Linked DNA regions of Homo sapiens. The protein of the gene in region 2 purifies or fractionates together with the protein of the main gene of each other region. This does not show direct contact. Each region holds a gene or a part of one and is shown on either strand. Other genes may lie near its edges.

Region 1 (3,810 bases), on a different chromosome or scaffold from region 2:
GTGGCTAGCAGCCGGCAGTCTGGGCTCAGGCAGCAGCCAGTGATTTGGTACTGGTGAGCCTTAGTCTGCAGCACCCTATCCCAGGAAGATGAAGTCAGTCCTCTGGACCCTGGCCATCAGCTCCCTCCTCATTTCCTTCTCCTGGGGCTTCCAAAAAATGGGGAAGGCCCTCATTCCAAGACAAATGGGGAGGACCCCTTACCGACAACCATGCTGCAGGTCCCAGAGCTCCAGGAGCCCGTCGAAGGCAGTAAGAAAGAGTGTATCATCGGAGAGGAACAAACAAGCAGAGATTCCATCACAGCCACTCACCACAGACTTCTCCTCCTGCGACAGTGGGTGAGGGAGCGCAGCTCAGGCCATCCCCTTGACCCTCCAAGTCCCACCACTCCAGGCCCCACCCAAAAAGAAGGCCAAGGCACAAAGGCCATGAGTCCTTGGCTCTCTATGTTCCAAGTCAAGCACACGTTCAAGTGGGGGCCTCGTGATCCAAGTGGGGCCACATTTTCTCCCCTACTCCAAACCCCATACCTATTCCCCAAGTTACAGAAAATTTTGATGGGTCTGAGAAAATGGGGTTACATGGGGTAGGGGATGACATGAGTGTAAAGAGGATAGAAAGAGGCTGTGGTTCTAGGACTCACCTCTCCAGCCTAATGTACTATTAGCCTCCCATAAGCACGCTGTGCTGCCATAATTCCCAGCAATTTACAAATTTACCAGGAACATTCCCCTCCTGTGTCTTTGCTCAGGTTCCTTGTTCAAACAAGAGTGCCTGCCCTTCTCTATCCTATGTCCTCCTATAGCTGCACAACTCACTCATGTCTTAATTAGATTACATGGCTATGTTTTGGTTCCTTTTTTACCTCGTATGTCTTATCTCCCAACAAAACTGACCACTTGGTGGGCAATGACAATGTCCCAAATCCTGTGTTTCTTGCAACGCTTAGCACAGTGCCTTAAATGGAAGGTGTGCAGCAAATATTTGCTGTGTGATTGATTTTTTGGCCAAGCCCTTTGAGCTGATGTGCAGGCAGTAAAGTTGCTGAATTAATCAGAGTGATAACAGGTGTGTTTGGCTCATCTAGGGCTTCAGGGCAGTCTGCATGGATTTTCAGAGGGTAAATTCTGCCCCTCCTTGATTGTCATACCTGCCAAGTTCTCAGGTCCAACAGGTAAACTGTCCCATTGGCAGTGCCCACAGCTGCTCTTTGCCCATTGGTGGAGAAGGCCACAGCAGTAGGGGATGAGGAAACTGCCAGAGACAGGCTGGAGCTAGAGAAAGAGTAGGAAGAAAGGGAGGAAATAAACGAGAGAATGCAAACAGGAGTTGATTTATGTGCTTCTGTGCCTGGATCCCTCTCCAGTGTTTCTGGTCATCCTTATTCCTCAGTTTCAGAAAGAGCTGCAGCTTGCTCTCTGGTGGGCTTACTAGGGTCTGGGGTCAAGGTCTTACCTTTGCTGATTTTTCATGGTCCGGGGTTTATTAAGCCATCGTAGTGTGTGTTGGAGGTGCCATCTCCGGGAGAGCAGCGAGGCTTGGTGGCAAAGAGGTGAGTCCAGGGGCTGGTTGGCTGCCTGCTGGGGCAGGAGCCGGGGGTACTGGCTGAGGATTGAAGCCTGCTGCCTCAGGAAGGTGCGAAACACTGCAACGTCAGCCTCGGGGAGCTTTTGTTCCTCTTTGGGGACTGAAGAAGCTATAAAAGGGTGGCAGAATGTCACTGGGGAGCCAGCTGGACCCCATTAGCCCCAGCACCAAATAAAACCATATGGTGTGTCTACAATAGTAAGTCTCAAAGTGTGGCCCTCTGGCCCTATATCAGGAATATCTCTTAAAAGTACAAAGCTTTGAGCCCCACTCCAAACCTAGGAAACCAGAATATGGAGACCCAAGGATCTGCAATTTGAACAAGTTTCCTAGATAGTTTTATGCTAACTAAATAAAGTTGAAGAATCTCTGGTCCAAGAGATCAAGGTGAAAGGTCTCCTGAGAGTCACGTGCTCACCCTCTTGGCATTTTCAACTCGAAATGGAAATTTGAATCTTTTTTCCCTGACACCCACACCCCTGCCCCAACCCTGAGCAGGGCCCCCATAAGCACACCCAGGAGTCCCATATCTCAGAGAAGAACCCAGCCAGTGACTCATCTCACCATAGAGGGCATGGGCCTCCAAGAGCCGAGAGACCAGACCCAATTCCAAGTGTGCAGCCACCACATGGAGGTTGGTAAGGAACTTCGAAAGAAGTCCACGGTTCCCGCTCTGGAGCTGAGAAGGTCAGATTGAATTCATTAGGGATATGAAGGGGCTGGTGAGAAGGGACAGTTTAGTCTCAGAACCTGGATACAGAGATAGGATCTGAGCTGGGACAAAGGACTTGAAGAAGAAGGGCAGGAAAACTGAAAGGAAAGAGGTCAAGGGAGTTTGGGAGGGGTAATGGCGGCGGTGATGGTGGAGATGGTAACGGGGAGAGGGGTCTCAGAGCAACCAAAGCACTCACTTTGGGAAAGGTGTCTATGGGGTCTAGGAACTAACCAGGTGGTAAGGCAGGTCTCCCAGAGCCTCAGGAGGGCAACTTCGGAAGGTGCCTGAGGCATCAGCGTCACATGTCTTCCAGAGCTGAGCTGCATGAACAGATATTGAGAAAGGCTCAGCCCTGCATCATTCCCAAGGGCAGTAGGTGAGCTGGCCAGCAGATGGGAGCACAGTGGGTGGTCCTGGCCTCCAGGCCCAAGCCCCACACTCAGTGCCCAGGCTGACTTGGGCTGCAATCACCTGCAATGAGGATGTGTGCCGTGTCCTCTAGCCCTGGCCTCTTCCCATAGCAACGTTTAGCTGCTGTTCTCAGGGGCCCATCAGGGAGGCACAGCCGGGCACCAGGGCGCTCCAGAGGGCCCTCCCCTAGCAAACTGTCCTCGTGTGAGGAAGGGAGAGAGAAGAAGGAAGAGGCCTGTCAGTGAGCTTCCTGGCACACAGTGGGCTCCTATTCCCCCCTCAAATAGCGGAAACTGGAGCAGCTGGAGCAGTAGCTCATTCATGGTCTGGGAGCCAGTTGTTGAAGCTATACAGAGGGCCCCGGCTCAAAGAAGGGAAGGCACAGAGAGGTCAGCGGGAGCTCTGCTGGGGCACCTGTACCTGCGCAGACTCTGGACGAGGCAGGCAAACGGGCCCATGGGGTAGGGGTCTCCACTGTTACCAGCAGCCACTGCTTCTTCCCAGCTCTTAGTCCCCTTCGGTAGTGTCCGCCACACACTCAGCACTCCGTGCAGCTGGTCCACAGTCAAACCTGAAAACTCAAGCTCTCTGAGGCCCTCATCTAACCATACGGTGTCCCCGCCCCCACCACACCCAGTCTCTCCTTGAACTGCCTGCTGAGACCCCAAGGGAACCAATGTAATCCGAACCCTGGCCCTCAGCCTCCCAACCAACCCACCCCAAGCACTGACCACTCCGTGTGACTTCTAGGGCAGTCAAGGCCTGGGGAAGGACATCAGGCCCGTGCTCCTTCTCCAGTGTGCTCAGGATGTGCTGCAGCAGCAGGGGGACAGTGGCAGGCAGGGTCCGGAGTCTCTCAGACACCTAGGATGGCGGGAGGACAGCCTTGTTCAGTGCAGTGGGAGGAGAAGCAGCTTGGCTTGTGGGATAGGGAAGGGGCAGCAGGAGGACAGTGTGGAGGAATGAAAAAGTAAAGAACAACAGTAGGAGGGAAGTGAGGCGAGGTATGAGGCGAGGATAGGGAGTGGGTGATCACAAGACAGCAAAGGACGTGGGATAGGGATGAGACAAAGCAGCTGAAGAGAGAATGGGAAGT
Region 2 (4,573 bases):
AGGCTGGTCTCGAATTCCTGAGCTCAAGTGATCTGCCCACCTCTGCCTCCCAAAGTGCTAGGATTACAGGCATGAGCCACCACACCTAGCCCCCACTGTTGATATTTTAATTTTTTTGGTGTTATTATTTCTTGTATCATTGTATTTTCTAAATTATTAATATTCTATATTTAATGTTATAGCCAGTTGCTCTTTACTTTTTAAATAGGACTTTCACTTTCACAGCTTATTTAGCTTTTAGTGATATCCTCCCCATGTCACTAAATATTCTTTGAAGGTGTTTTTAGTGGTTACATAAGCTTTGCGTTTATTTCATCCTTCCCCAAGTCATCAGATACTTGGTTACTTAAAAGTGTTCACTATTGGCCGGGCGCGGTGGCTCACACCTGTAATCCCAGCATTTTGGGAGGCCGAGGCGGGCGGATCACGAGGTCAGGAGATCGAGGCCATCCCGGCTAAAACGGTGAAACCCCGTCTCTACTAAAAATACAAAAAATTAGCCGGGCGTAGTGGCGGGTGCCTGTAGTCCCAGCTACTTGGGAGGCTGAGGCAGGGGAATGGCGTGAACCCGGGAGGCGGAGCTTGCAGTGAGCGGAGATCCCGCCACTGCACTCCAGCCTGGGCGACAGAGCGAGACTCCGTCTCAAAAAAAAAAAAAAAAAAGTGTTCACTATTAGAAATACACTTTAATTAAAATGCTTGTACATATATTTTTTTGCCACATCTCTGTCATAGTTTCCCTAGAGTTGATGGCCAGAAATGGAATTACTGAATCAAGGAGTATAAACATTTTTTAGCCTTTTAAAAATTGTGGTACAGTTTTTAAAACTGTGTGTACAGTTCAGTGGCATTAAGTACATACACATAGTTGTGAAATCAAAGTATAAACATTTTATTTTATTTGAGACAGGGTCTGGCTCTGTCTCCCAAGCTGGAGTGCAGTGGTGTGGTCACTGTCACAGCTCACTGCAACCTCGACCTCCCTCCCAGCAATCCTTTCACCCGGCCTACTTAGTAGCTGGGACCACAGGCCTGCACCACCATGCCCAGCTAATTTTGGTAGAGACAGGGTTCTTACTATGTTGCCAAGGCTGGTCACAAACTCCTGGGCTCAAGCCATCCTCCTGCCTCAGCCTCCCAGAGTGCTGGGGTTACAGGTGTGAGCTGCCACGCCCGGCCCAGAGTAAAAACATTTTAAACATAAATCTGCGGTCTGTTCTTAGCACCTGCGGCTGCGTGGGAGGTATGGAAAGGCGCACTTTGGGTTTCGTGAAATCTCAAGTCAGGTCTTGACTTCTCTCTTTCCACAGATTCATCTCTAGTCTCTGTAAAATGCCAGCCCTCTTCTGGGTTAACAGCGCCTAACCGACATGCGCCACTAGTTCTTCCTTGTTTCAAAGTGTTCTCTAAACACAGAGTTAGTTCATGTTTTCATCAGCGCTGATTACGTACATATGAGATGTGGCGGACACTGGGCTAGGGGCTGGTTATTCTCTAAGGCAAATCTGCACAGTCACTCCAGCCTGTCCCCCTTCCCAGCTTCTTCCCCAAATAACATTCACAGAGTGTCTTCCACCCAAAGACAGCAGGGAACAGCCCCGATTCCTAAGAAACCCTCAGCGCGCCTCCTCACAAACTCTTGGCTGCTCCATAAACCATTGGTGTAGGTGGAATCAAGTGGCTTCCTGCTTCACAGGTCTTCGTCTTTACCACTGGCATTTCCTCCTCTCGGAAAACCCTGAGGAGTCCCTTTCTGGGCAGTCTTGATTCTACAGCCTCCGCCTTCCGAAGTGTGTGAGTCAGCACACGCTAAGATCACTTTTGATATACAGTGGGCATTCAATAAAAGCTTGCTTACTAAAAACTCTCACGTATCCATTAAAGCCCAGGATTACAGAAAAGCCTTCTGACACTATTTGCATTTTGGACTCAAATGGCATCAGTAATGCACCTCCCTAATGGGTTTATTAAACCCTTAAACAACAAAGGTACTACTTTTATTTCACTCCTACATGATATACAGTAGCTCTACGCACACAAACAAGACCTAATGTTTACTTAATAAATGATAAAGTCAGATGTAATGAGTCTGCAACACGCACATCTCAGAGCGAACTTCCCCTTTATCATAGCACTATGCTTGGATATTGTCATATAATTGTTGTCATCCAGCAGTCCAGAATTGAAAGTGCTTGGGCTTGAATATTTAGCAGCGCCTTAGTTTTCTAGAACCTGTGATCTACCAACTCGATCCCTGGGTGAACCATTCGGCCCTCCTAGCAGGAATTACTTAACTGAGTTAGAGGTTTTCAACTTTGGACCTCAACAAACACATTGTTTCTATCACGGTGTTCCCAATGACTCACGAGGTCAGATAGTACTTCCTGATTACTCACCAAACCACCTTACTTTTTGCACAATTCGAAACCTAACTTTAGGAAAGAAGGCCGTTTGGCATACTGGAAACAAGAAACAACGCGTGCTACTGCGAACCGCACCGCACGGGGTGCGGAGACTTGGTGTGACTGTCGGCTCCGGTGGGCGCCCCCCACCGCACCCGGTTTCTCGTCACCAGGGCTGCGCCGCGGGGCAGAGCGGAACGACCGCAATATCCCTCCCCGAGGGCGCTGGCTGCACTAGCTAGTCCACTCCCGAGCCTAGCAGCGCCGTCAGGCCCACAGCGCCAACGCCGCGCAGGGCAAGGGTGCAGCCACTGGCGGGAAAGTAGTACGCGGGCCACTTCCTGGCTAGGACTACAGGGACCTTTGCAGCCCCCCACCCCGCAGCGCCCACGCACCTGCCTAGAGGATCCAGCTAGCTCCGGACGCTCCCCGATTCCGCGCTCCTTGCTCGCGGTACTTCCGTAATCTAGGCTCTCCCTGCCCCCGGGGCTGGGCGGGCGCCACTGCGCCGGAACCCCGCCCCGCACCAGGCGGGCGCAGCGTCCCAAGCAGGGACGATAGCCGGAACGCGCCCGGAATCGGGTCCGCCAGGTGGGGAGCGGGTCCCCGGCCTCTGGCGGGGTTTCTCTTCCAAGATCAGCCGGAGGGTTCAGGGCTTTCAGTTTCATATTTCAGGAGGGATTTTGTCAATGAGGATTAATACAAAGCTCGGCTTTGAGAGAGGTGGGTGGATGGTGCTGTCCTTTAACTGAGAAATGGAAGGGATTCACAAGGCCGGGAAAGAAGAAAATTTCGGGAAAGTTCGTGGAAACAGGAGAGTGAGATAATAAATTTACTTTAAGCCTTCCTGCGTTTGAAATTCGTGACAGTGTAACTAGTTGGAAATATATTTATCTGCCATTCAAGAGAGGCAGGGGGCTGGAGATACAGATCTGAGATTCACTGAAATGGGAATAAAGCAATGGGGAAGATTCAGATTTTTAGGATACTGAATAAAATGAGAATAGAAAGGATAGAGTAGAGAATACAGTGGAAAGGGTATGGGGTTGAATCCTGACTCCACAATTTATTACCAAGGGGGCTGGGGACAAGGTAATTTACCAAGTTTCATCATTACAACCTACTCTATAGGGTTGTCTAAGAAACAACAAGAGATTCTGGGGGAGGAGAGAGACTGATTCCTAGAGTTACCACATCGTAATGCTCAAAATGTCCAATCTTCAACAAAAAATTATGAGGCATGCAAAAAAAAAGGCGAAAAAATGGCCAATTCAAAGGAAAAAAGAAATGAACAGAAATTGTCCCTGAGCTGAGGAAGCACAGACATAGGAATTATTAGACAAATACTTCAAATAAACTGTCTTAAACATGGACAAAAAGTGAAAGGAAACATAGAAAAATAACTGAAAGAAACAACCAGGAGAACAAAGTCTCAATAAATAGAGAATATGCAATAGAAGATGTGCAAATGGTCAACAAGCATGAAAAAAAGCCCAGCATAACTAATTATCAGAAAAGTGCAAATTAAAACTGCAATGAGATACCATCTTACACCAGTCAGAATGGTTATTATTAAAAAGTCAAGGAACAACAGATGCTGGCAAGGCTTTATTGAAAAGGAAATGCTTATACACTGTCAGTGGGAATGTAAATTAGTTGAACCACTGTGGAAACCAGTTTGAAGATTTCTCAAAGTGCTGAAAACAGAACTGCTATTCAACCCAGCTATCCCATTACTGGGTACATATTCAAAACAAGAGAACTCATTCTACCAAAAAGACACATGCACTAGTATGTTCGTCACAGCACGCTTCACAATAGGAAAGACATGGAATGAACTTAGGTGCTCATCGACAATGGACTGGATAAAGAAAATGTGGTACATTTGCACCATGGAATACTACGAAGCCATAAAAAGAATGAATGGAATCATGTCCTTCACAGCAACGTGACTGCAACTGGAGGCCATTGTCGTAAGTGAATTAATGAAGGAACAGAAAACCAAATACCACATGTTCTAATTTGTAAGTGGGAGCTAAACACTGGGTACTCATGGATATAAAGATGGCAACAATAGACACTGGGGACAACTAGACAGGGAGGGAGGGGGAGGGGCAAGGGTTGAAAAACTATTGGGTACTATGCTCAGTCCCCGGGTGAGGGGCTCAGTC

The links.
Region 1: the proteins of PARP4 (region 2) and TEP1 purify together in Homo sapiens (affinity purification with western blotting, with the first as the bait; one study listed by BioGRID). This does not show direct contact.

What each region holds. Positions count from the first base shown.
Region 1 is NC_000014.9:20,378,779-20,382,588, forward strand, and holds part of TEP1 (telomerase protein component 1), read right to left. Parts: intron 3,579-3,810; coding exon 3,446-3,578; intron 3,286-3,445; coding exon 3,135-3,285; intron 2,909-3,134; coding exon 2,775-2,908; intron 2,624-2,774; coding exon 2,535-2,623; intron 2,268-2,534; coding exon 2,153-2,267; intron 1,698-2,152; coding exon 1,457-1,697; intron 1,276-1,456; coding exon 1,152-1,275; intron 328-1,151; coding exon 203-327; intron 76-202; coding exon 1-75. UniProt on the Homo sapiens protein: Component of the telomerase ribonucleoprotein complex that is essential for the replication of chromosome termini. Also a component of the ribonucleoprotein vaults particle, a multi-subunit structure involved in nucleo-cytoplasmic transport.
Region 2 is NC_000013.11:24,509,909-24,514,481, forward strand, and holds the start of PARP4 (protein mono-ADP-ribosyltransferase PARP4), read right to left. Parts: upstream 2,871-4,573; 5' UTR 2,798-2,870; exon of another isoform or gene 2,615-2,797; intron 1-2,614. UniProt on the Homo sapiens protein: Mono-ADP-ribosyltransferase that mediates mono-ADP-ribosylation of target proteins.